Linked DNA regions of Homo sapiens. The protein of the gene in region 3 purifies or fractionates together with the protein of the main gene of each other region. This does not show direct contact. Each region holds a gene or a part of one and is shown on either strand. Other genes may lie near its edges. The genes, in order: TLCD4, MFSD8, SLC22A16, SLC25A46, SLC29A1, GBP5 and ATP2B2.

Region 1 (4,179 bases), on a different chromosome or scaffold from region 3:
AGACCTGGGGCAGTTAGACTCTACACATCAGGGAACAAAGTGTACAGTCAGTGCATATGAATCTTTTAATGAACTTTGCATTATAATTTAGAGCCCTCCAGCATTTATTATTTTGTTATATAATTTTAAAGTAAAAATTTCTTTTTAGTTTTTTTTTTTTAAACAGAAAAGTAAATGGAGAAAGAATTAGACATCTATTGATATAGAAATCTGCTGGAGTTTTATTTTTTATTTTTATTTTATTTGTTTATTTATTTTTTTGAGACAGAGTCCCGTTCTGTCGCCCAGGCTGGAGTGCAGTGGTGAAATCTTGGCTCGCTGCAACCTCTGCCTCCCAGGTTCCAGTGATTCTCCTGCCTCAGCTTCCTGAGTAGCTGGGATTACAGGCATGCGCCACCATGCCAAGCTAATTTTTGTGTTTTTAGTAGAGACAGGGTTTCACTAGGTTGGCCAGGCTGGTCTTGAACTCCTGACCTCAGGTGATCCACCCACCTTGCCCTCCCAAAGTGCTGGGATTACAGGCATGAGCCACTGCACCCTGCCAGAGTTTTAAAAAGTTGGTTGCAATTTTTTTGTGTGTGTACAACTTATTAATCTCACAAGATTTCAAACACAAAATGGCTCTGATGACTTCTTCACGTGCTTTAGAGCATTTTATGTCCCCAAACATCACTGTGCATTTGTAAACCTCAGTGAGTCAGAGCAGCCGTGGCCTTATTTTTTGTTGTTGCTATTTAGTTGAAGTTAATACTAACCATAAAATGGATTCAGCAAGTCTCTAAAGTTTGCTATAATTATCTTTCATTGAAATTTCCTTTTAAAATTCAAGAAATTCTGTCAGTGTCTGAGTATTTATTTGAGAATGGTCATATTTGATTTGAAATTCCCTTTGAACCAAATTGTTTTGCAGGCATCTACTTTTATGATTCAGACTGTGAATTTAATAAGACTCTAGTTGTTTTTTTTTGTACTTTACAGTGATGTATCGGGTTCATACATGTCAAAGTTCTTTTCACCCAAAAAGCAAGAATTATTTCTCCACATATTTTCAAAAAATAAGCAGTATGATTATTTTGTCTTAAGACTAGCACAAAAATATTGTTCAAATGCATTATACTAGAGATACCATTACTTTAAAAAATCTTTTCTAACATATGAAGATAGATGGAATGGTAGGAAAGAGAAGGGGGTACATACGTTCTCTGATTAAATGTTGAACTATTTTCATTTCCTCTTTCCTGTGGTTAGGATAGGTAAAGGCATTTGAATGTTAGGTAGCTGCAAGTCAGAGAAATAGGAAAGGGTACAGAGAGATGGAAGCCAAGATGAAAATGAAATGAAATTGAAGAATATTTTGCATTATCTAGTCTTATCACTGCCATTCTATGACACAGGAAATACCATTTGGGAAACTGAATTTCTATTTGAAAAAGGAGTCTGGGATTATATAAAATTCATTTAGGTATTCAGTGGTGTTTTCTCTTTTTCTCAAGTTTGCTCCTGCTTCTCACTCCAGCTTTTTTTACAAAGGACTTAAGCTGTAAGGTGGAGAGTGCAAAGTAGGACAAGGAGGCTGTATTTTGAGTAAAATATGTATAAATGTCTTAAAATTCAGCTTCCAGTTTGAAACATACAGGTAAACACACATAATTCTTTCTAGTGATCAGGAAAGAGTCTCTAAACATGAGTTGAGAGTGGTCTGAGCCATCTAGTATAAAAAGAAATGGAGGAGAAAAAATCACTGGAAATGCCCATTTGAGAGACAACAGTTTAGTTAAAAGTGAGAAATTGTTGTACTGAATTGTTACTTTTTCTGAAAACGTGTATACTTACAGGTGCTACATCTTATAATGTAAAAAAATTTTCTTAATTACTTATATTCACTTTCTTACCTATCACATTGAAAGTCTTATTGTGTTGAAATACTACTAATTTTTAAATGTTTCTCTAAAATTTAGCTGAGTTATATAATTTCTGTTGGCAATATTTACACTACTTGTGATTAGTAACTTAAAATTGCTATTCTAAAATAGTCATTAATCATTTCCTTAGAGTGCTATCCCTTTATATGCACAAACATTTCTTTTCCACCCTCTTTGAAAAAAAATTGAAATATTTTATCTTGGGTAATATCTTGGAATTTCTTTTTAGATACTAAGGAATCTAAATTTTCCTTTGCTAGGAATCTGATTTTAAATAATAAAATATAAAATTTTTATTAACAGAAGTTTCTGAAACTATAGTATAGACTTTTAATACAGAATAGTGTATGAGTGAGGGCAGGGTATTTGTTTTTCCTCCTCATTACAGAGGGAGATATTTGATTGGACCAAGTAATATTTAACTTTTCTGTACTGAATCATACACCATTTCCATCAGCTGAGGGCTTAGAATGCTTTCCATTTACCACATAACATCTCAAAAGAGAAGTGAATCTGAGGCCTGAGTGTCAGAAATAAAAAGTTAGGTTTTTCAAAAGGGAGCTTTCTGACTATGGTTACCAAACAGTAAAACAAGTTTGTAAGAGAGATTATATATTTTTAAATTTTATATAATTTTTGAATAGCAATAGAGAGTGGGCTGTATGACCATTTAAATGGAGTATTTTATTTTATATCAAGGAATTTAATTTTTTTTTTTTTTTGAGACAGAGTGTCGCTCTGTTGCCCAGGCTGGAGTACAGTGGTGCAATCTCCACTCACTGAAACCTTTGCCTCCCAGGTTCAAGTGATTCTTGTGCCTCAGCCTCCCGAGTAGCTGGGATTACAGGTGTGTACCACCATACCCAGCTAATTTTTGTATTTTTGGTAGAGATGGAATTTCACCATGTTGACCAGGCTGGTCTCAAACTCCTGACCTCAGGTGACCCGCCCACCTTGGCCTCCCAAAGTGCTGGGATTACAGGTGTGAGCCACCATGCCCGGCCAAGGAATTTACATTTTTATCCTGTGCTCAAGGTGTGCTTGGCATGAAAATTATAGACTTGTAAACCAGATAAATTGGATTAATTATTCACATTTCAAAATGATTCTTAGGTATTATAAATGATACTTGGTCAATGCCTTTAAATTGGTGAGAATCTTTGCTTATTTAAAATATGGCTTGATTTAGCATGATACATCTATTTTGTAACACACTATTAGGTCAAGTATATTGGTTTCTAAAGTTACAATGAAATTTTCTGATACCAAACCTAATATTAGTTGATATATTTTACTTTTAAAGATTTGGGATCATATTGTAGAGAAAAATTTATTGCACACCAGTAATTTTTAGAGAGAAAACTTTGCTGTACCTCTCATTTTTTATCCTAATGAAGTTTCATTACTTGTGAACTTCTCAATAAAGATGTGAGAAATCTGAAATTGTTGGGTAAAAAAACTTTATTGTATGGATGAATACACAGTATCCTAAGTATAGTTCTCTAAGTAACATAGAGCTTGGGAATTAGTCACATCATTAAATTTATTAACAAGATATATTCATAGAAACTTATGGTTTTTATGTTAAACTTATTCCTTCTATACAAGAAAACTTGACCTGGATCTTGAGAACATTGTGCTTTCACTTGGGTATTTCTTTTAAAAACAAATTTTCCGTATACATTTATGGTCCTCAATTTTTCTATTTAGAAATGTTTTCATAATAATGATAAAGAGGGACTAATAATAGCTACCCTTGTTTTCTTACAAATTTGTTACAAGAATCAAGTGCAATAGTGCATGTCAACGTACTTTAAAAACTGAAGCCTCCCAAGATAATAAATCTTCATATCATGATCCATTCGAATTGTTTTAAGGATATGGAGTTTGTTAAAGCCAGTAGATCTGGAAGTCATTCCCAGCTGATTGGAGCAGGAAACTTATCCTGCATTGATGCTGTTGGGGCTGGAGCTTGGAGCCAAGGGTAGTGGCCTTGCCAGTTGCCATCTGGCTGCACAAAAGTCTGTCAGCTGCATCATCATGTATGCATTTATCTGTCTTAGAACTTTTAACCAATAAGTGATTCACCAGTTCTCTAGCAGGAAATTGTAGGCCTTGGTATCTTCCTCCTTCTTTATTCCAAAGTAAAGCTGTGGCCTTTGGATTTCTAAATGGCAAGAAATGGCAATTTTGCATTATACTCTCCGTTATACTTCACACCTGTATATAAATGCTTCCAGGTATAACTTGTTCAGAA
Region 2 (4,179 bases), on a different chromosome or scaffold from region 3:
TTTCTAATTTTATCCTTTCAATATTTAATAATTGTCATTTGTCATTAAAAGAAGAAAGATTTTGTCTGAGCTCTAAATCAGTCACTCAAACAATTTTATTATTTTTTTAGAATCAAATAATTTACTTCTTGATTCCCTAACTTAGATATATCTGGTTTTTTATTCAAATTCTAGTATATTGATTTCAAAGTATGGGCATCTAGGGTTCTGGTATTTTTCTCAGGTAAGCTACATTATTTTTATTTTTTTCTTATCTCCTTTGACTCAGAAGAGGTTTGTTTATATGGAATGACATATATAGTGTTAAACACTTTAAATATATTAGGAACTAATATGTTTGGCATATAATACATCTAAAAACATTGTTTCTCTTCTTCCTTTCCTCTTTACCACTCCCAACCATATCACGTTTGAAAAAAAAAAGTTTCTTTTTTGAAGACTAATTTGACAGTTCTAAGGCTTATTTTTAAGAAATTAATCTTGGAACATAAGAAGGCATTTTGTCTGTTCTGCATGTCTTGATTATTTGAAAAGATAATGCTCACGTTAAGGTGAACTTGTTAACTCTTTCTATTGTGTGTGTGAAAATGTAATGAGTATATAGACTCATGTGTCACCTAATGGAGGTAAGATATCTACTTAGTATACATGCCTTTGGTCCAGATCAGACGCTTATCCAAAAGATCACTTAAGTCTGGGGAGTCATGGTCTCTCTTTGGTCTGCTGATAAAATTTATCTGGTAACCCATTTAGGAGGTCCCAGGGCTGAAAATGTCTTAGGTTACGTTAAACCTTCCTGGTATCATTCCTGTTTTCTGAAGTAGGAAGCCAAAAGAGCTTCCTGCAGCAATTTAATTTGCTGTCATCAAGTAGAGCATGTTATAATGATGACAGTTATTATTTTTTAGTACTTAGTAGCTACGGGGGATCTAGTTGTAGCTAGTTTATTTGATTTATCTTGACGTAATTTATTCATTTTTACAAATTGCAACACTCTTGATTAATAAATCTGTGCATGTCAATGGTAGCAAAATAATTGCCTTGCAAAAAGTTTCCTCTTTTAAAACTATACTGTTTCCCAAATTTCTGTATACAATAATGCATATATACAATCCATGGAAATTCAAAAAAATAATGCTTATTCATAGATAAATTAGTGTAGCAGAATCAATATTGGTAAATTCTACCTCTATCACATCATTTTCATAACTAGAGAATAAAACTGTTGACACTTAAGATCCACATGTAATGAGATAAATTTATACTACTTTTTTCTTCTTTACACCTAGAGAATGGGACATTTTAGAGACTGAAGAGCATTATAAGAGCCGATGGAGATCTATTAGGATTTTATATCTTACTATGTTTCTCAGCAGTGTAGGTAAGTATTAGAAATACATAATTTTAACAATTCAGATCAGATGTCATATTTTAACTTCATTTACTTCATTTACTTTCATTGCCTCTGAAATTATCTTTATTGTGCTAAAAAATACGTGACATAAATTTACCGTGTTACCATATCTAAGTTCAATAGCCTTAAGTATATCCACATTGTTGTGCAACCAATCCCTAGAACATTTTCATCTTGCAAAAGAGAAACTCTATACCCATTAAACAACTCCCTATTTTCCCATCCCCCAAGCCCTAGCAAACTTTGTTTCTTGGAATTTGACTATTCTAGATAGCTCATATAAATGGAATTATATAGTATTTTTTTTCTTGTGATGAGATTATTTCACTCAATGTCCTCAAGTTGGTTCATGTTGCACTTGTGATAATTTCCTTTTATTTAAAGGCTGTATAGTTCATTATATGTATTCTAGGGTAGGAGAAATTTTTCCTCTATTCTCCTATGTGCTTAAGGCTTGTGAATTAAGCTGACAAAAGAAAGACTAACAGTTAAAAAAGTATACAAATTTATTTGATGTTAATATTTTTTAATGAAAAGAAACAAATAACATTAAGGAATGTACATACAAACGAAACTAGACAACTACTAAGAGTCCCTAACACTTTCATGTACTCACAAAAGTATTTCATCTTTTTTTTTTTTTTTTTTTGAGACGGAGTTTCACTCTTGTTGCCCAGGCTGGAGTGCAATGGCACGATCTCAGCTCACTGCAACCTCCACCTCCCAGATTCAAGCGATTCGCCTGCCCCAGCCTGCCAAGTATCTGGGATTACAGGCATGTGCCACCACCCCTGGCTAATTTTGTATTTTTAGTAGAGACGGGATGTCTCCATGTTGGTCAGGCTGGTCTCGAACTCCCAACCTCAGGTGATCTGCCCACCTCGGCCTCCCAAAGTGCTGCGATTACAGGCGTGAGTCACCGCCCCCAGTTAAAAATATTTCATCTTTTTTCTTTTTTTTTTTTTTTCAAGACGGAGTTTCGCACTGTCGCCCAGGCTGGAGTGCAGTGGCGCGATCTCGGCTCACTGCAAGCTCCGCCTCCCAGGTTCGCGTGATTCTCCTGCCTCAGCCTCCCGAGTAGCTGGGACTACAGACACCCGCCACCACGCTAATTGTTTTATATTTTTAGTAGAGACGGGGTTTCACTGTGTTAGCCGGGATGTCTTGATCTCCTGACCTCGTGATCTGCCAGACTCAGCCTCCCAAAGTGCTGGAATTACAGGCCTGAGCCACCGCACCTGGCCAAAAGTATTTCATCTTTACAGCCATCAGTCAATTATTTGTTCTGCTACTTCTTGAAGATGTGCAAAATTTCTTTTTAAAAAAATTTTATTATTTATTATTATTTATTCATTTTTTGAGGTGGAGTCGCCCAGGCTGGAGTGCAGTGGTGTGATCTCGGCTTACTGCAACCTCTGCCTCCTGGGTTCGAGCAATTCTTGTGCCTTAGCCTCCCGAGTAGCTGGGACTACAGGCGCACGCTATCACGCCCAGCTAATTTTTTTGTATCTTTAGTAGAGATGGGGTTTCACGGCGTTAGCCAGGATGGTCTCGATCTCGTGACCTCATGATCTGCCCGCCTCAGCCTCCCAAAGTGCTGGGATTACAGGCGTGAGCCACCCCGCCTGGCCAGTGCAAAATTTCTTAAGTTTAAATATACAGTCTTAATTATACCTGTGTCTTAATGTCCCAAGACAGATTGTAGGTAACAGAATCTCAATTGTGCCTCAAAGAATTAACAACAAAACAAAATTCAATCTATTCTCTGCATTCAGGCAGAAAGGGGGAGAGCAGAGAACCCTTCCTGCATCTGCTATTTCTCGGTTGCCTTCAGTTTGAGATAATTAATATGGCAAAACAGCAGATTTTTGGAGTAGCATACTCTGATTGCCTTCAGTATATACCACATTTTTTTTTTTTTTTTTTTTGAGACAAAGTCTCGCTCTGTCGTCCAAGCTGGAGTGCAGTGGTGTGATCTTGGCTCACTGAAACCTCCGCCTGCGGGGTTCAAGCAATTCTCTGCCTCAGCCTCCCAGGTAGCTGGGATTACAGTCACCCACCACCATGCCCGGCTAATTTTTGTATTTTTAGTAGAGATGGGGTTTCACCATCTTGGCCAGGCTGGTCTTGAACTCCTGACCTCGTGATCCACCGGCCTCAGCCTCCCAAAGTGCTAGGATTACAGCCTAGCCTGGCCTACCACATTTTGTTTAGCCATTTATCTGTCGATGGACATTTGGGTTGCTTCCACCTCTTGGCTGTTGTGAATAGTGCTGCTGTCAATATGGGTGTGCAAATATCTCTTCAAGATCCTGCTTTTAGTCCTTTTGGGTATATATCCAGAAGTGAAATTGCTGGATCATATTATGATTTTCTTTTTAATTTTTTAATTTTTTGGAAAATTGCCATACTGTTTTCCATAGCAGCCGTACCATTTTATTTACATTCTCAACAACAGTCAGGGTTCCAATTTTTTCACATCCTTGCCAACGTTAACTTTCTTTTGGATAGTAGTCATCCTAGTGGATGAGATGGTATCTTGTTTTGATTTGCATCTTCTTAATGATTAGTGATGTTGAACATGTTTCTTGTGCTTTCTGTCCATTTGTATATCTTCTTTGGAGAAGTGTTTGTTCAAGACCATTGCCCATTTATTAGTTGGATTTTTTGTTGTTGAGTTGTAGGAATTCTTTATATACTCTGAATGTTAGCCCCTTATCCAATATATGATTTGTAAATATTTTCTCCCATTCCAGGACTCTTCT
Region 3 (4,179 bases):
TTATTAGCCCAGGGTCACGCGCCTTAAAGGTGACAGAGCTGGGATTTGAACCCAAATACCATGCTCCTTTGCCTTTTACACAAGGTCCAACAAACAATCTATACAAAAGTGAGCACAGAGCAGTCAGCTCCTTGTCCAGCCTGTCCCTGAGTGGCCCATCCCTTCTCTAAGACAGCTCTGGCCACAGGGTGTGGTGTATATTTATGGAAGTAGTCTGTGAATGTGCTTCCTTTGGATCTAAGGAGTATTACCTATTGTTTGTAATGAGTCAAAAAAAAAATCAGATTTCCCATTAAACTTGTTTATGGATGTCAAACTGCCTGGGGAGCCAGTGTTTTCATTTTGAGAAATGAAAACTCTGATCTGGAAGATGTTTATATTTTCTCTTTTGAAAAGAGGCACATGAAAAATCACTCGTTCTGATGCTTTTGTTATTAACCATTATTTTCTAGTAATCTAAAAAAGGTGGACACGTAATTAGCTTTTTATGTGCTCATTAACTCATTTGGCAATCGTTGACTGAGTGTTGGTTTTGAACTAGCCACCCTGCTAGGTGCTAAGGAGCAGATGAAAGAAATAGCCTGTCTTGAGAGATGTACAGTCTGGTGGGAAGGGCAGGAGAGCAAATCACCACCAGTCCCGAAGAGAAGGGCTGGAGTGGGGAAATGCCAGGTATGGTGATTTAAAAGATACAACAGCAGTAATGATGGAATATTAAGAAACATCTTGTTTTTCAATATATAATAGCAGTAGGGCAGGCGCGGTGGCTCACACAAGTAATCCCACACTTTGGGGGGCCAGGGGTTTGGGACCAGCCTGGCCAATATGGCGACACCCCGTCTCTACTAAAAATACAAATATTAGCCGAGCGTGGTGGTGCGTGCCTGTAGTCCCAGCTACTCGGGAGGCTGAGGCAGGAGAATCGCTTGAACCCGACTGCCTGACTAGTCTTACTACCAAGCTAAGAATATATATATATATGCATGCAGTAATGAGAGCTTACATGTATTGGCTACTTACTGCAGCCAGGCGCTGTTCTAAGTGCCTTTTGCGTAATATTTAATTTCATCCTCTCAACAGTCGTTTGCGACAGATACTATTCTTTCATCCATTTTACAGAAAAGGACTCTGAGGAGCAGAGAGGTTAAGTAACTTGCCCAAAGCCACACAGGTAGCAGGTGGCAAGTACCCAGGCAATGTGGGTATGGAGATTATAAAAGGGTCAAGAACATTTCTTTTTCTTTCTTTCTTTCTTTTTTTTCTTTTTTTTTTTTTTTTTGAGATTGGGTCTCACTCTGTCACTGAGGTTGGAGTGCAGTGGTGCAATCTTGGCTCAATGCAACCTCTGCCTCCTGGGCTCAAGAGATTCTCCCACCTCAGCCTCCCAAGTAGCTGGGACCACAGGCATGTGCCCCCACACCTGGCTAATTTTTATATTTTTCATAGAGAATTTCACCATATTGCCCAGGCTGGTCTCAAACTCCTGACCTCACGTGATCCGCCAGCCTTAGCCTCCCAAAGTCTTGGGATTACAAATGTAAGCCACTGCACCCAGTCTTTGAGAAGTTTTTTTTTTAAGACGGAGTTTCACTCTTGTTGCCCAGGCTGGAGTTCAGTGGCACAATCTTGGCTCACTGCAACCTCTGCCTACTGGGTTCAAGCAGTTCTCATACCTCAGCCTCCCAAGTAGCTGGGATTACAGGCATGTGCCACCTCGCCCGGCTAATTTTGTAATTTTAGTAGAGACAGAGTTTCACCATGTTGGCCAGGCTGGTCTCGAACTCCTGACCTCGGGTGATCCACCCACCTCAAGCCTCCTGAAATGCTGGGGTTATAGGCTTGAGCCACCATGCCCAGCCCTTTGAGAGCTTTTCTTTTTGCCAAGGGAAAATAGCCAGCAGAAAGGAAAAGATCAAAAATATGTGAGAAGGAGGTTGGACGATGGATGGAGGGAGATCTCTGAGGAGGAGGTGAGAGGCAGTGGGGTCTGGAGAGTGTGAAAGGATCCGCCTGGCCTCCCTCCAGGAGGAGGGAGGGGTGGGAAAGGGGGGACTTATTTCAAAGTTTGGTTTGGGGTTTGGGGGATTGTGGGGAGCTGGTCAGGGAAGCAGGAGTGAGGAGGAGGTGGAGAGGTATGATTTGTTTCCTGCCTGACTAGGCTTACTACCAAGCTAAGAAGAAAAATTCCATTCTGTTCTGGATCTTCCATTTGATTCTATTTTGCTTTTAGACTTCCTCAGTGTTTTTCAGATCCTGACTTAGGGCTCTTCTGGGGTTTCTAGATCACTGGATATACTTGCCGTGTCTTGAGAGACCAGAAAACGTCTTTAAAATTCCTTTGGAATGTCACTTGAAATTCTGCTACTGCGTCTGGGTTAAGCTTACTCATATATTTCGTATATTTCTAAGAATTAGGTTATCAGTGCTCTGCAAAACAAAATGAAAAACTGCCTTCCCAGGTCTCGTCTGTTATGGATGTGATCTGGCATCACTTCACACTTGCTCTATGTATTTTATGATTCTCATTTTCAGAGGCTATAAACATACCAAGTGTGTAGATTTATCAGAAAAGCCACACCTTAATTTATTTTTATAGGGTCTTTCCAGCAAATATATTTTGCTAAAGGAGTTTGAATTAAGTAAGGACAGATTGTGTTTTTACGGATTGTATAGAGATTTAGCTCTGTTAATAAAAACCACCCAGCATCTTCATGATGATAAACAGAGAATAGATATGCAGACTTTAATTTTTAATGTGACCTGCATTTTTAAAAGCAAACGCCTTGGCGCTAGTCTAAAAGGCTGCCTTTTATGTGTCAAAATCTGGAAAATAAAGAAATCACACCGAACTGTATAGGAAATTATATGGATCCCTGCCCCATAAAGTAGCAATTTGTTTTCACTGCCTTTGTTTAGCTTCCCCCAAATTCCGTAGATTCTGGTTGATTGAAACCTGTTTTCATTCATTCATTCCCTATCATTTACTGAACCCTGATAGTGTACTGATTATTGGGGCAGGGACAGGGTTGACTAAGACAGTCCCTGCTTGGCATGTCCTGACCCAGGGCTCAGTTACTTGTCTTCTCCACAAGATTCTGGGGTCTGGAAAGATGGGGTAAGTGTCTTTTTTCTTTCTGACCACAGCTCCTAGGACAGCACCTTCAGGAGTAATAATGCAGGCAGTAGCTGGCAATTAAGGAGGCACTCCATGGTGGGTCATGAAGGAATGAATGAGTGAGTGATGAGATTAAACCTCGTTGATGAGGAAAAGAACTCGAAGTCCAGCACAAGTAACCAAAGATCTCACCGAGTAATCACAGTGACAACTGTTATGTCAAATTCAAATCCATTACCCTCTGAAAACAGTTAGGAAATTCTATTCTCCGAAGGGTTCGTTCCTTTCTTGATGTGTCACTTATCATTATTTTTAATTCCTTCTAGTTGTTTGTTGGGACTATGGCCCTCCTGAGTGGAGTGTTAACACTAAAGCTTCCAGAAACCCTTGGGAAACGGCTAGCAACTACTTGGGAGGAGGCTGCAAAACTGGAGTCAGAGAATGAAAGCAAGTCAAGCAAATTACTTCTCACAACTAATAATAGTGGGCTGGAAAAAACGGAAGCGATTACCCCCAGGGATTCTGGTCTTGGTGAATAAATGTGCCATGCCTGCTGTCTAGCACCTGAAATATTATTTACCCTAATGCCTTTGTATTAGAGGAATCTTATTCTCATCTCCCATATGTTGTTTGTATGTCTTTTTAATAAATTTTGTAAGAAAATTTTAAAGCAAATATGTTATAAAAGAAATAAAAACTAAGATGAAAATTCTCAGTTTTAAAAACTGCTTTCTTATTGCTGCAAAATATTTTTCAACATTTGTTTTTCTATGTAGTTGATTCTCAACCTTTCCCCACCACCCCCCTACCATGCATGCCAGAGGGAGTTCACCTATTTCTTTTTTTTCTTTTTTCTTTTTTTTTTTTTTTTGAGATGGAGTCTCGCTCTGTCGCTCAGGCTGGAGTGCAGTGGCGGGATCTCGGCTCACTGCAAGCTCCGCCTCCCGGGTTCACACCATTCTCCTGCCTCAGCCTCCCGGAGTTCACCTATTTCTATCCCGCCAGTGCCACCCCTCCACGGCTTCCCAAAAGAAGGGGCATGTGAGAATGCATTTCTTTTGACA
Region 4 (4,179 bases), on a different chromosome or scaffold from region 3:
AGCTGAGGAACAAATGTGGGTATGTGAGCAATTCCCGCTCTTTAAGTATTCATTTAATGAAGGAGACACATGTAAGCAAGAAGAGGTAACATGTCCAATGTCACGGGGTTGGACAGTCTAGGTAATAAAAGAAGTGTCTTATGTTTGGAATATTGGGTATGTATGAAATTGAATATCAGGAAAAGAAGCTGAGGTGCTACATTAAAATACGATTGTGCCTTTTTAAGTTTATTCTCTATGGGTTTGGAATGTGTTTCTTTTTTTAATATATAGATGTTCTGATCAAGATATATTCAAATGGCAGTATAAAATAAATGGAGTTGTATAGACAGATTTATGGAGATCTATTGTAATAATCTAGGCGAGGCTGAGAAGGTTCTGAACTGTGGAACAGAACAGAAAGGGATGAGCTGGCTAGACATTTCTGAAGTATAGTCGATGGTCATTATGTTAGCTTGGTAATTGGAGATAGGAGAGAATGAGTTGTCAGTAGTGACTGAGATTTCTAGATTGGAAAATGTTAACCAAGATGGAGAATTCAAGAAGAAGAAAAAGTTGGAGTAGGGAAGAAGATAAAGAATTTATCTTTCAATAAATGAAGTTTGAGATTCTTGCAAGACATTGAGGGAGAGGGACATGTCTCATATTTGGTTGGAACCATGGATCAGAGTAAAAAAAAAAAAATAGAAAATTGAAGCACAGGGAGAGCTTTGGGTATTGTGGCATAAAAGTAGCAGCTGAAGCTTAGGATAGATGAAATCACCTAAGGAGAAAGCATAGATTAAATGAATAAAATGGACCAAGGACAGAATCCTAGGCATACATGTGTGCCGTGTGTGTGTGGGAGCGGTGGGAAGGGGGGTAGTTGGGGGAGATAATGAGAGAAATTAGAGAGGGCCTCAGACAAATTGGAAATAGCATAAGATGTAGGACAATCATGTTCTAGAAACCAAAAATGGGAGAATTAGAAGTGTAGATACATTTGAGAGAGAGGGTAGAGAAATTAGGGAAATTTGCTTTTGGGTCTCTCTTTTCTCTGTGAAGCAGGATACAGGGTTATTTGGTGAAAAAATGATAAGCATTGGGGTTGTAGTAGAAAAGCATGAGAGGAATGATACACATTTGGGACAGTCACAATGATGGGTAACAAAGGAATCTTACAAAGAGTATATGAAAGGAATGTTAATAGGTAATATTGGAAATTAGAAATTTTTAAGGTGCTATTTGGCATTACTCTGATTTTCTATATCAGCACTATATTTTTGTATATCATCCTATCGATAATGTTAAAGGCTTTGGAATGGTTTGTTAATCCAAATTTATTCTCTGGCAAGGTGAATTTTTTGCATTGTTAAAGAAGTGAGATAGTTGAAGGCATAGCTACTAGTGTAACGCATATGCCCAATGTTGGGATTTAGTCCTTACAGGGAAGGAAATGAAAGCAAGAGAAACTGATAGTAAGCTTTTTTCCAATGTGATTGCTTTTGAAGGACCTCGTAGTCTTGAAGTGCCTTAAATAAACTTTGCTAAAACGTTTGAAACAAAACAAAGATTAGAAAGGTCAGCAACATTTGGGCAGCTCAGAGTTTCTTGTTTTATTCTTTAAAAATCTGTATTTCGTTGTTTGGCTAACTATTCACTTTATTGCTTTTATATCACTAGATAAGATCCCAAGTTAGTACTTATAGTCAAATATTCTTGAAATTCTTTAACAAACAATTCTGTAAAAAAATAACAAAATGCAGGAAATTCCATTTGGTAGAGTGAAAAAAATTCAATGCAGTTGTTCCTCATATCTGTAGGGGATTGATTCCAGGACCCCCAGTGGATACCAAAATCCAGAGATGCTTAAGTCCCTTTTATAAAATGGTGTTGTATTTGCATACAACCTGTACATAACCTCCTGTATACTTTAAATCATTTCTTGATTCCTTGTAATACCAAATACAATGTAAATGCTATGTAAATAGTTGTTATTCTATATTGTTTAGGGAATAATGACAAGAAAGAAAAAAACTCTGTACACATTCAGTACAGATGCAACTATCCCTTTTTTAAATAAATATTGTAAATCCGTAGTTGCCTGAATCCATGTATGTGGAACCCATGGATATGGAGGGTTGACTATATTTGCAACCAGAACACTATTGGTTCAGGTCCTGGCTATTCCACTTTTTATTTCTGGGACCTTATGCAAGTAATGTTGCCTCTCTAAAGCAGAGATGAAGGAATAACATTAATTTCAGGCTACAGGGAAGAAAAAAGAAAAATAGGAATGGGAAGGCATAGGACTTTATAAAATTTTATCATCTAACTTTCTTACTCAGTAGACAGACATGTCAACTGAGTGGGAATATATTTTCATCATTTTGAATCTTTCCAAAGAAGACAAAATAGTAACCTCTATTGCATTGTTCTACTTGGATAATTTTGGTGATAAGGCCCACTCATTAATTCATTCATTTACTTGGCTAACATTTCCTGAGTACTTACTATGTGCCAGGTTCTGTGCTAAAAACCGGGTTTACAGTGAGGAAAATAAACAAAAGGTAACTGTTGCCAGGAAGCTCAGAATCTAATAAAAGTACATTCACTAAGAACAATAATTCCATTAATGAATAATTGCAAATTGAAATTTGTTTTCTGAAGCAAAAGAATATAGTTCCATGAAAGTATTAAAGGGCTAGAAACAGTGTCCCTAGTAACATGACACTTAAGGTAGATCAGAGTGGTAATTAGGAGGTACATACCAGTTTGTACAAAAATGCTGTTGCAGTGGGGAGCCTAGAGAATTCAGGTGTAACTGAGAGAAGCCTCACATGGCTGGAGCTCTGGCCAAGGGTAAGGGTACAGAGCAGGTGGGAGCCAGAACATGTGTGGCCCTGTAGGCCATTTTAAGAATATTGAAGAGGTTCAGTAAGGTCAGTGACATCAGATTTGTTTTCAAAGGGTCATTGTAACTGTAGATGAAAAGGTTGTATGAGGACCAAAGTGAATAAAAGGAGACATCTTAGTATTCTATTACAATAATAAAGGTAAGAAAAGATAGTGGCTAAGATCAGGGTGGTATCTTTTGAGATAGAGGTAAGTGGACAGTTTTGAAATATACTTAGGTCAAACTGAGGGAATTTGGTGATGCTTTAGGAATGGTAGATCAAAGAGAAGGCAGTATGAAGAATGACTTCTTGTATTTGGGCTTGTGTAACTAGTTGTCAAATGAAGCTGTTTTTTTGAAGTATAGTGTGAATATCTTTTAAAAAATTATTTATTCTTCTTTGGGCAGATTTGACCTTTCCTATTAATGGGAAGAAGGCAGAGTTTGTTTCTGTATCCTATTAATGGGAAGAAGGAGCAAACAAGGTCACAAAACATTAACAGCAGTTCACAGAAGCTACTACATGAGGAGGATGAGCTCTGAGGTCTCCTAGCCTGGGGTTTTTTAATTGCGTAACATTTACTAGGTAGAACAGGGGAGATAGTACAGATTTGCCAATATTTAGGGGTTTTTAAATACAGTTTATGATCAAATCAAAGAGAAAAACAGCAGATCTCTAGTGTTCATTAAGTCAGCAAATTTATAATTTCTCAGTAGTATTACTTTTTAACAAATTATATATTAGCCAGGATCGTCATGTGTGATCTCTTTAGCAGTAGATACTGCTAAACCCTTCCCTGTTCTCTCTCCCAGTTGCAGTGAGTTAAACCATGTGTCGTTCTACCCCCACAGTACCCTTTACTTAATTTACATGTGGCTTTTTTCAGACTGTTAACGCGAGGTAGGAGTTCCTGTAACCAAGGCTACCTGTGTGGTTCAGTCTCTCACAAAACCCATTTGGTTCAACTCCAACTTAGTTTTGACTCATCACACATCTGTGGTTATACCACTGTAAACATCTTGTAGTTTTCCTCCAACGGTTCCCTCCGAATTTGCTTATTTTAAACACACGTTATTTTAAACACAATGAAATCTTCCTCAAATTCAATAGATTTCCTTTCTGATTAATAGTTCCTGAGTAGGGAACACTGAAAGAGTTTAAGTAGAAAAGAAAGATTTTAAGTTGGACTTTAGTACAAGTGCATTTTCAGATCTTTTATCATATCCAGATGGAGTTGTCTGTAGGCACATGATATGGGGCTGGCATATAAAGAATTCTTAACTGAAGGTAAATTAATTTGGGA
Region 5 (4,179 bases), about 66 Mb from region 3:
CCAAACAGCAAGGCCTGGGCCCAGCTAGGCCTGAGTGTGGGGAATGTGTCAGTGCACATCTGCCTGGCTTCCCATGCCACCCAATGGGAAAGCTGTTTAATCTGCTGGTGCCAGGGGGTCTCCCCCTACACAAATGGGGAGCAGGAGAGGGACGCTGAGGCAGAAGGATAGGTGCTTTGGGATCCACCCCTCCAATCTTCTTTTCAAGGTCACTCTTAGAAAGGGGAAGCGGACAGGAGCCTGTGACAGAGAGGAACTAAGGGAGGACTAGGTGACCCTGGGGTCGGGAGGGGGGAGGGGGAAGGGCTGTGCCCCCACATCCATTATGAAATATTTTCTTGGAAAACCGGCCAGCAACTAGGAAGCCCCTGGGCAGTGGCTGGAAAGAAAGGTTAAGGTGCCAACAGCAGAGAGACTGGAATCTGGGTTGCCTTCAGGAGAGGACAGCCCCACTCTAGCCATGAATCCAGGGGCTCCCCAGGGAGGGTGGAGAGACCAGACTTGCAGAGAGGGGCCTGGGGAGCCTCTGGTTTGACCTCAGTCATCATCGATGTTGTCGCAGCTGCTGCAGATCTGCCTGTTCCGTGTCCTTCCTCCTCCTCCCCCGACCTCTTTGCTGTGTCTCCTCCATTTGTCTCCCTCCTTCCCTTGTCATCACTGTCCCTGACCCCTCTCGTCCTCTTGCCTGCCTTCTTTGACTGTCTTTCCCTCCCTCCCATCATCTTTCCTCCTCCTTCCCTCCTGCTCTCCACCCTCCTGTTTCCCAGCTTATAAACTGCTTCGGCTGCTGGATAAAAATAGCGGTGGCAGCGGCCAGGCCGGGAGCCAGGTAGAGTCTGAGCAGGCAGGGGGGCCGCGCAGGACTGGCCTGCTGGGCCAGGGGGCTGGGTGGGGGTCAAGTTGAGTCGTCCTGAGGGGCAGGGTGCAGAGGGGGTCTTACTGGACTCCTCCACTGGCCTGTTCTGTCAGCCCTGCCCCCTCTCCCCCTAAGAGCCTGAGGAGGCCTATGGCAGGGCCAAGACAGGGCCTCACACTGTTCCTGCCCCCAGCAGGCCCCTGAGGGAGGGAGCTGTCAGCCAGGGAAAACCGAGAACACCATCACCATGACAACCAGTCACCAGCCTCAGGACAGGTAAGGGGTAAGGGGCTGGGCTGTGGATCCAGGGAATGGGTTTTCAGGGAGCTGGGTGTGGTGTCCTTTGGAATTGGGGGTTGCCATTGCTGGCTGGCCTTCCAGCCAGGTAGCTATGAGTCAGGTCTGCATCAGGGGTGGGGACCCCGTGTGCCTTGGCTGGGTGCTGGCTGGGGTGTCTGCGGGAAGGGCAGGGTGCGTGGGCAGCAGTCCTTCCCTGGCCTGTCTGTGTTTCCACTGTTGCTCTCCAGCCAGTTAGCGGCTTTCGGCTCCTCCCGCCACCACTGTGGGGAGATACTTGGCTGCACCCCTCCTTCCAATGCACATCTGGCAGAACTGCCCTGGGGCCTCTGCCTTAGATGACCTGGCCCACCCTGGTTCTTGATCTGATCTTCCTCTCAATTCCCTGCCTCTGGAGCCTGTGAACTCCCAGTCAAGTTAGACTTGCAGTTATGACTGTGAATATGTATTTTGGAAGAAGAGGCTGTAGCTTAATTCAATTTCTCAAAGGGATCTGGGACCCAAGAAGGCTGAGGAAGTGATCCCTGAGATCCAAAGCTCCTTCAAAGCGTCAGGCTCTGTCCTGCCCTCCAACTCAGGCCCCAGAAACCCATCACGTCTGCCCTACCCACCCCATCTCCCTCCTGTGCCAAAGGCTATGAAACTAGGCCACTTTTGCCTGTGGGGGCTTTGAGCATGTAGCTTAATCTCTCTGGGACTGTTTTTCCACCTGTAAAATAAGCTAAAAGTATCTACTTCCCAGGAAGTGGATCTAGAAGTAAGGGAATTTAAGGAGGCATGGCAATAAGTCCAGGCCCCAGGTTGCTTCCCTGCCTCCTGTGCTCCATTCCCAGGCTGCCTGCCCATTCTGTCCCCACCTCCGCTCTCCTGTGGGCAGTTCCCTGAAGGCCTCGCCGGCTCCATTTGCCTTATTGCACAGCTCAGTCATTTCCCAGCGTACTCCCCCCAACCCCGATCCTCTGTCCTATGTGACTTTGGGAGTTTTTCCTTCTGCTCTGGGCCTCCGAACCAAGCCTTTAGCTTCTCCAAGGGAAGCATGTATGTGAGGGGGTTGGGGGGGCTGCAGTTGCATTAACTCGGACCTGCTCACGTGGTGTGCTCACCACGCCATCCCTGTATGAGGCCTGCCAGCGGTCCAGGCTCCTGCACTCTGGCCAGGCCTGTCTTCTCACTGCCTTGGGCTTTATCCCTGCCATCTCTGAAGAGAGCTGGTGTTGGCTCTGGGGAGGGTGTGCAAACCCAACTGGAGATCTACATGGGCCGGGCTGGGGTTACTCAGCTTTCAGGCAAGGCCTATCTGGGAGAAGCTGGCGTGACCCGGAAGGGCCTTGAGGTATAGGGCTTGGGGCATTGCCCTGGCCAAAGGTGGACAGTCCTTATTTACACCCTGAGGCCCAGATGGCCTCCAGTGGCCCCATACCTCCTGGCCTGCCCTGGGTGGTATGAACTACAAAGTTCTATTTGGCCAGGAAGAAAATGGCTCTAAGGCCCTCTCTTCACAGCGGCCCTGAGGCACCCTGCCCACCTGCCCTGTAGGTCCAGAATAGTATGGGAGTTTCTTAACTTCAGAATCCTCTCTGGGGAGTAACACAGTCCCTGACCAGACAGCATAATTACTTCCAGCCTGCCTGGTGGGAGTGGAAGACACTTGCTGCTTGCTTTCTCACTCATCCACCCACCCCCTGCCCTTCGGCAGGATTTCCAAAACCATCTCCGGATGTGTGGGTCACACTGGTTCCCAGCCTGCAGAGTCCCCCGAGCCTTCCAGGGCTGATAACCATGGTCCTGTCAGCCATGCCATTCAGTCCTATGACCCTGACCCCATCCCCACCCCAAATTCCAACGAGCAATGTACCCTTTTCTCCCCCCACACCCATAAGAGGACACATGCAAACGGACACAAACACAGACGCCCTGTGCCCTGGGACCTAGAGAGACTGACAACGGACAGGGGCTTTCCTGGGGCTCATTGTGGAGTGGGGCAGGATGGTGCGTCATTTGGCCCATCTTTCCTCCTCCATTGCAGATACAAAGCTGTCTGGCTTATCTTCTTCATGCTGGGTCTGGGAACGCTGCTCCCGTGGAATTTTTTCATGACGGCCACTCAGGTGAGGCTGGAGGGACTGGGCTCCATGGGGCAGTGCCCACTGTGCTTGCAGGATCTGACTCTGTGCTGGTAGGCACAGGGAAAGAGATTTCAACACTCCTCTCTGCAACCCCTGCAGTATTTCACAAACCGCCTGGACATGTCCCAGAATGTGTCCTTGGTCACTGCTGAACTGAGCAAGGACGCCCAGGCGTCAGCCGCCCCTGCAGCACCCTTGCCTGAGCGGAACTCTCTCAGTGCCATCTTCAACAATGTCATGACCCTATGTGCCATGCTGCCCCTGCTGTTATTCACCTACCTCAACTCCTTCCTGCATCAGAGGTGAGTGCCCACCCCCTCCCCAGCCCCCAGCCTGACCCTCACTGTGTCCTGCACCCCCTTGGCTGAGCCCCAGCTTTGCCCACTTGTCTCTGCCACCCTTGGCCTCTCCCGGCAGGATCCCCCAGTCCGTACGGATCCTGGGCAGCCTGGTGGCCATCCTGCTGGTGTTTCTGATCACTGCCATCCTGGTGAAGGTGCAGCTGGATGCTCTGCCCTTCTTTGTCATCACCATGATCAAGATCGTGCTCATTAATTGTAAGCTGGGCCAGGAGGGGGCCTATGGGAGGAGGCATGCCCAACTACCCCCACTCTTTTTTCAGACCCAGCGTTAGCCAGAGAGAAGCCCAGCCTCCGCCTGGAGGGAGTGGATGCTGTGAGCAGCTGGGATTCAGAGGCCTGAGTGGGCCTGGACCAGGGCTGGGAGGGGGCAGAGAGAAGGGCAGCTCAGCCTCAAGGCTCACCAAGAGTAAAGTAGGAATGACAGGGATCTGTCTTCTTGGGCACCCCCAACCACCAGCCCTAGCTCCCCTGCTCATGCCCGCCCTGTTTCCCCAGCATTTGGTGCCATCCTGCAGGGCAGCCTGTTTGGTCTGGCTGG
Region 6 (4,179 bases), on a different chromosome or scaffold from region 3:
AGTTGGGCATCACTCAGGCTAATGGTCGTGTGCTGGATGCCATCAGAGGGAAGTACCAATGGTAAAGTGGAAACAATGTGCAGCTTTCAACTGGGTGGAGGCTGCTATTCTGTGGACAGTGAGATGTTTCCTTGGCACTGTCAATAGACAATCTGCGTAGAGAAATTCCAAGCTGAAAGCCAATAATGTTATAATAAAATAGAGATTCTTCAGAAGATGAAAGGAATTACCAGCATGGAAATTGTGTCATAGGCTTAAGGGCTAAAGAAGAAGCCTTTTCTTTTCTGTTCACCCTCACCAAGAGCACAACTTAAATAGGGCATTTTATAACCTGAACACAATTTATATTGGACTTAATTATTATGTGTAATATGTTTATAATCCTTTAGATCTTATAAATATGTGGTATAAGGAATGCCATATAATGTGCCAAAAATCTGAGTGCATTTAATTTAATGCTTGCTTATAGTGCTAAAGTTAAATGATCTTAATTCTTTGCAATTATATATGAAAAATGACTGATTTTTCTTAAAATATGTAACTTATATAAATATATCTGTTTGTACAGATTTTAACCATAAAAACATTTTTGGAAAACCATAAATCAGTTCCTTTGTTTGTATTTTTCTCAAAGTTAAAAGTCTATAGAGAAAGACTGAATTTCCCTAAGGAGATTAAGAATTGCTTTAAGACTAGAATTAAAACACACTTTATTACATCTTTTTATGTACTTTTTGTTACTTTGTTTTGTATATCTCCAGTAAAATTTTTTTTGTTTAAATTATAGAAACATTACACAAAGCTCTGTTTTTCTCCCTTATAAGTACTTACTCATATAAGGAATTTTCCACTTAGGTAATATGATAGGAGCTTGAATTTTTTTAGTCACCCAAAATATGATTTACTTATATACAGAAAAAAGCCGAAAAATTTTAGTGTCTGCTCTTTTTACTGTTCTTTGAAGAGCTTTAATATGAGGAATTTTTCATATCAGATAGGATGTGGTGCTACTCAGCAGTATTTCTAGATTTGAACTGAAGTTCAGAAGGTACCAGCATATTCAACTGAGCATTTGTCTAGCAATACCCTACAATTACCTTTTCAAGCTGTGCAATTTATAAAGAAAAAAATACATTTTATCATCCAAGGAAATGTTATCAGTAAAAAGAATAGCTCTATCTCCAAATTAAATATTGATATCTTTATTACCCATCTTAAAGAAATTTTTTAAAATCCTGAGACTCAGAAAATTAAGTCATTTAAGGTTTCACACCTTGTTACTGTTAACCTAGACCATGTTACAAAGTAGTTGATTTCTAGTCTAATTTAACTTTTGCTATTATATCTCCCCCACCAAAAACCAGAGAGGCATGCTGCTTTCATTAGTGATCCACAGATATTCTTCCCCACCAGCTTCCCTGGATCCCACTCATCCCCAAATACTCTGATCTCACAGGTTAGAGATCTGTCACTGGGTGCAAAAGAACAAGAAAAGGCACTGTAAGGTAAACATTGATGATTTCTTGAAACTACCAGTAAGTAGCTTATATTTTCTGACTTTCTTTGTCTTACTGTTGTGAAATCAACTGATCTAGTTTTAAATGTAATGAAAAGCAAAGCAATAGATTCTCCCCTAGAGCCTGCAGATGGAATGCAGCCTTGTTAACATCTTGATTTAAGCTTCACAGACTTCTGATTTCCAAAACTGTAAGATAATAAGCTTCTGTTGTTTTAAGCCACAAAATTAGTAATAATTTGTTATAGCAGCAATAGGAAACAAGTACAAAATCTTTATTAGTTAATACTATGAATAGTTATTCATACCAGCTAAGAGATATTTGGAATTTATTATGGATCACTTTATTATGGTCACTGTAGTAATTCACCTGTTGCTCATAAAAACCTTATAAACATTTAGTATTGTTTTATGGCAATTGTTATTTTAAACAATATTATCAATGTATGTTAGTGTTATCATTATTAAAGTTATTATTGTTAAAGCATTGAAATTAAATAAATTAAGGTCAGTACCACAGAAGGCCTTTTGAATTTAGAACCCACATTAATAACCATCTTGTGGTACTTTCTTATCTTGCTTAGTGATACGGTTTGGCTGTGTCCACTCAAATCTCATCTTGAATTATGGCTCCCATAATGCCCACGTGTTGTGGGAGGGACCAGGTGGGAGGTAATCAAATCATGGGGGTGGGTTTTCATGTGCTTTTTTCATGATAGTGAATAAGTCGCCTGAGATCTGATGGCTTCATAAAGGGCAATTCCCCTGCACATGCTCTCTTGCCTGACACCATGTAAGATGTGCCTTTGTTCCTCTTTCATCTTCTGCTGTGGTTGTGAGGCCTCCCCACCCATGTGAAACTACAAGTCCATTACATCTCTTTTCCTTTATAAATTACCCAGTCTTGAGTATTTCTTCATAGCAGTATGAAAATGGACTAATATACTTAGGAAAACATAGAAATACTGAATAATGTGTTAAAATTTAGAAGGAATTACTAAAATAATTGAAATCAAAAGCATAGATTCAAAACAATGTATAAGAATTCAGCACAAAATAAGCAGGTAAAGAAATTTCTAAAATGAAGTAGAGAAAATGTGGTAATGACTCTAGTGTATAACGATCACCAACAGAATAGAAAGTCCAAAAAATAGACTTTATAGGAATAATACAGGGTAAAGATAGACTTCTTAGTAGGTTGGGACTACTGGATGGCCATATAGGAAAAGATCAAGTTGTAACCAGACCTCACACACAATACACTAAAATAAGAAAAAGGAACCACACCCAAATTGATAAAATATAAAATGTAAAACTATGAAAATGCATTTGAAGAAATCAAGGTTATGTTCTTCATAAACCTGTAGAGGAGAGGGCCTTTCTAAATGTGACTCAAAACTCTTGAAATCTCTCTTGACCCCATGTCTCAGTCAGTTTCAACACAATCTTTGTTCCCTTTCAAAGCAATATTTTAGTTAGTTACATCCCATTCTCTGTTTTTCAAAATTATTAAATGTGACACATACTGAAGAGTACAAAAAACATAAAATGTACAATATTCAATATAAATAAATTACAAGATGAACGCACAAGTAACAACCCAGGTACATACATTCAGCATTACTAAAATTCTATAGGTGTATATGACAACTTCTGACAACCCTGCTAGAGCCAACTAATATCACAACTTTCACAACTATTTTCTAGGATTTTATTATAAACATGTGAGCTCCTAAGTAATGTAATTTTGTTTGGCCTGTTTTCAAACTTTATTTAAATGGAATTACATTGTTTGTATTCTTTTATGCCTTGCTTCATTTGTTAATAAAATCTTTATAAGATTCATCTAGTTCATTGTGTGTAGTTGTAAGCTATATATATTCTACTGTTTAAAGATAACAATTCATTCTACTATTAATACATATCTGGATTTTCAGGTTTACCTTATGAAATGTTATTAAGGACATTCTTTTTTTTTTCTGTTTTTTTTTTTTTATGAGACAGAGTCTCACTCTATCACCCAGGCTGGAGTGAAGTGGCATGATCTCGGCTCAAGGCAACTTCTGCCTCCCAGGTTCAAGCAATTCTCATGCCTCAGCCTCCCAACTAGCTGGGACTACAGGCACACACCACTATGCCTGGCTAATTTTTGCATTTTTAGTAGAGATAGCGTCTCACCATGTTGTACAGGCAGGTCTTGAACTCCTGGCCTCAGGTGATCCACCCACCTCGGCTCCCCAAAGTGCTGGGATTACAGGTATGAGCCACCGCGCCCGATCGGAACATTCTCGAACATATACACTTGTGCATGTATATATAAAATTCCCTCTGTAACACTGAAGTCTTAGAGAATGGATATCCAGCTTTTCTTATTTATTAAATTTTTATTATTTTTAATTTTTGTGGGTACATAGTAGGAGTATATGTTTACGGGGTACATGAGATGCCTTGATACAGACATGCAGTGCATAATGATCAGATGGAGAAGGGGTATCTATCTACTCAAGCATTTACTCTTTGTATTACAAACAATCCAATTATACACTTTCAGTAATTTTAAGAAGTACAATTAAATTATTATTGACTATAATCTTCCCTTTGTGCTATTAAATATTAGGTCTCATTCATTCTTTCTAACTATATTTTTTGTACTCGTTAAACAT
Region 7 (4,179 bases), on a different chromosome or scaffold from region 3:
ATTGAGAGCCACAGTTCCTTGTCTCTGCCACTGACTCTGTGAACGTCATTGTGCTCTTCCGGAGAATAGGGGCAGCAGCACTGACTTTATGGGGTAATTGCCAAGTACCGAAATGTTCATCATAATAGTACTAATCGCTAAAATGTGTCCGCAAGCACTTTACAAATGCTTTTTGTTTTCCCATGTAATGCGTGGGAGGGGAATTGCTTATTCAGTCATGTGCGTTCGGTTGTGTGTGGTTGAACCAGTGACTTCGCCTCAGTTTGCTCCTCCGTAAACCAAGGGTTAGCTGAGCACCCATCTTCCCGGTTGTCACGTGAGGCAAACAGGATCCAAGTACAGGGCTTGGCCCGGGTGTGGTCCAGGTAGAGGCTCAGCGGATGTTTTCTTGCCTGTAAGATGGGATAGTGGTAGTATTATGATGATGCTATTATTTGTTGTATGAGGATTTGGTGAAGTAATGCAAAGGAAGCACTTGGCTCAGGGCCTCGCCAGAAATTGATGGAAAGTGGCCTCCTTTGTGGCATCAGAAAGATTTGAGTATAAATCCTAATGCCAGTGTTTACTACTGTGTGACCTTGGGCAGGTAGCTTTGCTTCTCTGAGCTTGACATCCTGATATGCAAAGTGGAGTGGGAAAAACCTGCCTCACAAGATTGTGCCACGAGATGATGGGTAGGTAATGTCTCAAATGGAACCCTCATCATGCCAGGCATTCGAAATATGTTGAGCTTCTGCCCTGCTTGTGGGCATCTTAAAGATGTCCCCAGAAGGGGCACATCCTAGTCCAAGGAGGGTGGATTTGATTTGGGAAAATTGGGAGCAGTCGTGCCATAGTGGAGCATATGGGATTGGTGGAGCCTATGGGAGAAGCAGTGAATGGATGACACCGTTTGGGGTCCAAGCACCATGTAGCTTTGAAGGAAGAAAGCAGGTCTCTGCAAGCTTCTGTGCTGCCTCTGAAGGCAGTTTCCTATAAAGTGGTGCCTTTCCTGTGCCGGCTGGGCTACTCTACCGGGCCATGTCTGGCTGCCCCGGGACCATTTTGTGGGAGCCATGGGGGCGTCATCTGGATGAACTCATTCTAGCCCAGCTCTGTCAAACACCTGCCTTGCAGGCCCAAGGGAGCTGTGGAGGCAGTGGGCGGGGAATGCTGTGGCAGCCATTTGGGGTGCCTCCTGCATGCCTGAGGCATCCACGCTGAGTGAGGCCCCCAGGCTCATCCGGAGCAGAGGGTGCTGGCCTCCAGCTCACTGATCCTTCTGAAGTTTTTTGATCTGTGCCCATGGGCAGGGCACGCCATCCTACGTGGGCCTGACTTAGCGTTGATGTAGCGCAGTAGTTGAGGACAACATCTGGGCCCAGGCTGCTTGGGGTCACATCCAATGCCTGGCCGCTGACCAGCTGCATGTCCTTAATCTCCAAGCCTCCGTTCCCTCCACTGTCAAATGGAGATGACAACACTGCCTGCCTCATCAGGCCGTTGTGTCGGAGACTGAACTGTGCGGATTCCAAGATATACATTTTGACATTTCTGAAGCCAGGTTGTGCCTGACAACTGGTGTTACACCACAGTGGAACCAGCCATGCCTTTTATTTCTTAAATATACGTAAAGTAGTGATACAGGTTAGAGTCAAGAAAATATGATAAATAAGATCAGTTTTATAAGGGGCTCAGAACAGAGCCACCAGGCTGGTGGGAAGAAGCCAGGATTGCCACCTGCCTCCCCAGCTCAGTTGCGGTGAGTCCCTCACTGGGTCCTTTGTGTCCACTCTGAAACAATCAGCAAAAGAACACCTGCTTGCCGGAGCAGCTGTGAGAAGTCGGCAAACTTTTGTGTGTATTACGTGACCAGCAGAGTCCCCATATGCAGTAGGTGCTTAATAAATGGCCGTGCAAAACAAACAGCAAAGACCGTAGTACAAGGAGGAATTTAAAGCATAGACTCTGGGATTCTAATTCCTGCTCCACCATTTCCATGCTGTGTGACCCAGCACAAGTTTCTTAATTTCTCTGTGCCTTAGTCCCACCATCTGTAAAATGGGGATAACAAAAGTGTCCAATTCATAGGATTGTTGTGAGGATTAAGTAAAATTAAAGTGCTTAGGACAGCCCTTGGCAGAAGTGTAAGCAATTATTATTTGATGAACTTTAATGAGTCTCTTCTAGTTCAATAAATGATACTAAAATAAACACTAGGCTCAATAAAATAATAGCAGTTGAGGCTGCACTTGCTTTATAGCTGAGAAAACCAAGGGCCAAGAGGCATGCTGGTTTGCCCAGGATCACACAGCCAGCTCCCAGCAGACTGGAACCACAGCCCAATGTCCAGGCACCAGCCCAATGCTGCCTCTTTGCCCATGTTGGTTCAGGACTCTTTCTCTTATGGAGAAAGCAGTTCTTGCCATGGAGAGGAGGGTTTCTAGAAGAAGCCACCAGCAGATACATCACCAGTGCTTCAGGGATCCACAGGGTAATTAGGGCCCTCATTAGAAGTCGTTTCTGTCTTCCCTCAATTTTCTGCCTGACCACCACAAACAGTGGAAGGGGCCTAACTGGGATGCCCACCCTGCCCACAGCTGCCCAAGGTCAGCAGAGCCTGCCAACCATCCTGCAAGCCCACCAGCCAGCACTCTCCTGGCCTCCAAGTGGCTTCTGCAGAGTTGACACAGCAAAATTCCCTCCTGGAGACAGCAAAAGCCGTGGCTGGCCCGTTGGTCCAGCCACCAGACAGGCTAGGGCCACAAAGTGGATTGGAGTTGGGGGGAGGACAAAGACCTGGGTGCAGCCAGCCATGACAAGCACTTCAAGTGACCTTGGACAAGTCACAGTCTCTTTCTGAGCATCAGTTTCCCATCTTTGAAACAAGCCTTTTGGAGCCAGATGGGCCCCCTGAGACTTTAAATGTCTAAAATTCGAAGCTGCCTGGACATTGCTGATGTCCAGGTCACGGGGGAAGGGGCGGGGTTGGAGGGGTGGAGCTAGTGTCTGCGTGTGGAGTGCAATGTGTGTGGATCTTGGGTTGGACTCACTAGGAGCAAGCATGAGACAGCGCTCAGGAGAAAGGGGCTGAAAGGAAACAAGGTAGGGAGAGAAAGAGATAAACAAGCGTGTGGCCTCAGCTGATCCCTTGGGGGATGTGGGGCATGAACTGCGCCCCAGGTTTGGCTCTGCCTTGAAGCAAAAAAGCTGGCCTTTCATACCCCATATCAGATAGTTATTGGCCACGGCTGCCTTCTGAGTGGGATGCTGTGTGCAATTGCCCGGGCAGGAGCTCCTGTTCTTCCCAGGGCAAGCCTGCAAAGAAGGGGCAGCCGGGAGCTCTAGCTCCCAGCAGCTGGGGTGTGGAAGCTGCAGACCGGTAAGGAGGACTAGGGTGGGCACCAACAGTGTCCACTCTGTTATGTGGATTTGGGATGCAAAGGTTGCTGGGTGCCAGTCTCTTCCTAGCAACTATCTGAAGGCAGCAGATTAAGAGCTCTTTAGGCCACTTCTAAATTTATCAACTTACATGACTCACTTCAGATTAAAATGAAGCCCTTCTCCCCATCCCACCCCCAGCCAATTTCAGATTTCTGAGCTCAGAGCATCCTGAAGAGGGCATAGAATGCAAATCAATAAAACCAGTATTAGCTAAGTATTTGGTGTGGACCAGGCTGTTTGTCGGGCTCCTTGCTGAGCTCAGAGATGAATCAGCTCCAGAAACAACTCCTGCTGGGAGGCGGAGGCAGCCCCAGGTAGAAGGTGGTATACGACTGCGGGTGCCCTGCCTGGGGGCTAGGCCATGAATAACTTCCAGGACCAAGACTCAGCCTCACCACCACAGTATTTAGAGCTTCCAGAGCCTCAGTTTCCTTATCTACAAAATGGGGTCAGTGTGGTGAAGAGTATGTGGCCTGGGCCACTCCTGCACTCAGGGAGTAGCAATAAAATTAAGCGAGACCTGGCACTGGGACCCAGGGCTGTTTCTAGGCACTTCTCTGCCCTCTCAGAGGCCTGAGTCTGCCCCATGACCTCAGGGGAAGGAAATTCTGAGCTGAGTGGAGACATCAGCTTCCCTGGCCCTGGGAACGTCTACAGTGGGCTTCACTACAGCCCCCGGGTAACCTGTCATAACCAAGACAGCTCTCGTTTAGCGAGCAATTTCGATGCTAGGGGCTCCGTGTGCAAAAGTTTCCT

What was found.
Region 1: the proteins of SLC22A16 (region 3) and TLCD4 purify together in Homo sapiens (affinity purification with mass spectrometry; 2 studies listed by BioGRID and IntAct, with this or other methods). This does not show direct contact.
Region 2: the proteins of SLC22A16 (region 3) and MFSD8 purify together in Homo sapiens (affinity purification with mass spectrometry; 2 studies listed by BioGRID and IntAct, with this or other methods). This does not show direct contact.
Region 4: the proteins of SLC22A16 (region 3) and SLC25A46 purify together in Homo sapiens (affinity purification with mass spectrometry; 2 studies listed by BioGRID and IntAct, with this or other methods). This does not show direct contact.
Region 5: the proteins of SLC22A16 (region 3) and SLC29A1 purify together in Homo sapiens (affinity purification with mass spectrometry; 2 studies listed by BioGRID and IntAct, with this or other methods). This does not show direct contact.
Region 6: the proteins of SLC22A16 (region 3) and GBP5 purify together in Homo sapiens (affinity purification with mass spectrometry; 2 studies listed by BioGRID and IntAct, with this or other methods). This does not show direct contact.
Region 7: the proteins of SLC22A16 (region 3) and ATP2B2 purify together in Homo sapiens (affinity purification with mass spectrometry; 2 studies listed by BioGRID and IntAct, with this or other methods). This does not show direct contact.

The regions. Positions count from the first base shown.
Region 1 is NC_000001.11:95,144,448-95,148,626, forward strand, and holds part of TLCD4 (TLC domain-containing protein 4), read left to right. Parts: intron 1-4,179.
Region 2 is NC_000004.12:127,954,703-127,958,881, reverse strand, and holds part of MFSD8 (major facilitator superfamily domain-containing protein 8), read left to right. Parts: intron 1-1,289; coding exon 1,290-1,381; intron 1,382-4,179. UniProt on the Homo sapiens protein: Outward-rectifying chloride channel involved in endolysosomal chloride homeostasis, membrane fusion and function. Conducts chloride currents up to hundreds of picoamperes.
Region 3 is NC_000006.12:110,424,348-110,428,526, reverse strand, and holds the end of SLC22A16 (solute carrier family 22 member 16), read left to right. Parts: intron 1-3,144; coding exon of another isoform or gene 3,145-3,171; exon of another isoform or gene 3,172-3,441; coding exon 3,442-3,654; 3' UTR 3,655-3,840; downstream 3,841-4,179. UniProt on the Homo sapiens protein: Facilitative organic cation transporter that mediates the transport of carnitine as well as the polyamine spermidine. Mediates the partially Na(+)-dependent bidirectional transport of carnitine.
Region 4 is NC_000005.10:110,748,660-110,752,838, forward strand, and holds part of SLC25A46 (mitochondrial outer membrane protein SLC25A46), read left to right. Parts: intron 1-4,179. UniProt on the Homo sapiens protein: Transmembrane protein of the mitochondrial outer membrane that controls mitochondrial organization.
Region 5 is NC_000006.12:44,226,211-44,230,389, forward strand, and holds part of SLC29A1 (equilibrative nucleoside transporter 1), read left to right. Parts: intron 1-799; exon of another isoform or gene 800-829; intron 830-1,049; coding exon of another isoform or gene 1,050-1,103; coding exon 1,104-1,132; intron 1,133-3,179; coding exon 3,180-3,261; intron 3,262-3,378; coding exon 3,379-3,581; intron 3,582-3,696; coding exon 3,697-3,836; intron 3,837-4,136; coding exon 4,137-4,179. UniProt on the Homo sapiens protein: Uniporter involved in the facilitative transport of nucleosides and nucleobases, and contributes to maintaining their cellular homeostasis. Functions as a Na(+)-independent transporter.
Region 6 is NC_000001.11:89,255,375-89,259,553, reverse strand, and holds the end of GBP5 (guanylate-binding protein 5), read left to right. Parts: 3' UTR 1-3,365; downstream 3,366-4,179.
Region 7 is NC_000003.12:10,495,467-10,499,645, reverse strand, and holds part of ATP2B2 (plasma membrane calcium-transporting ATPase 2), read left to right. Parts: intron 1-4,179. UniProt on the Homo sapiens protein: ATP-driven Ca(2+) ion pump involved in the maintenance of basal intracellular Ca(2+) levels in specialized cells of cerebellar circuit and vestibular and cochlear systems.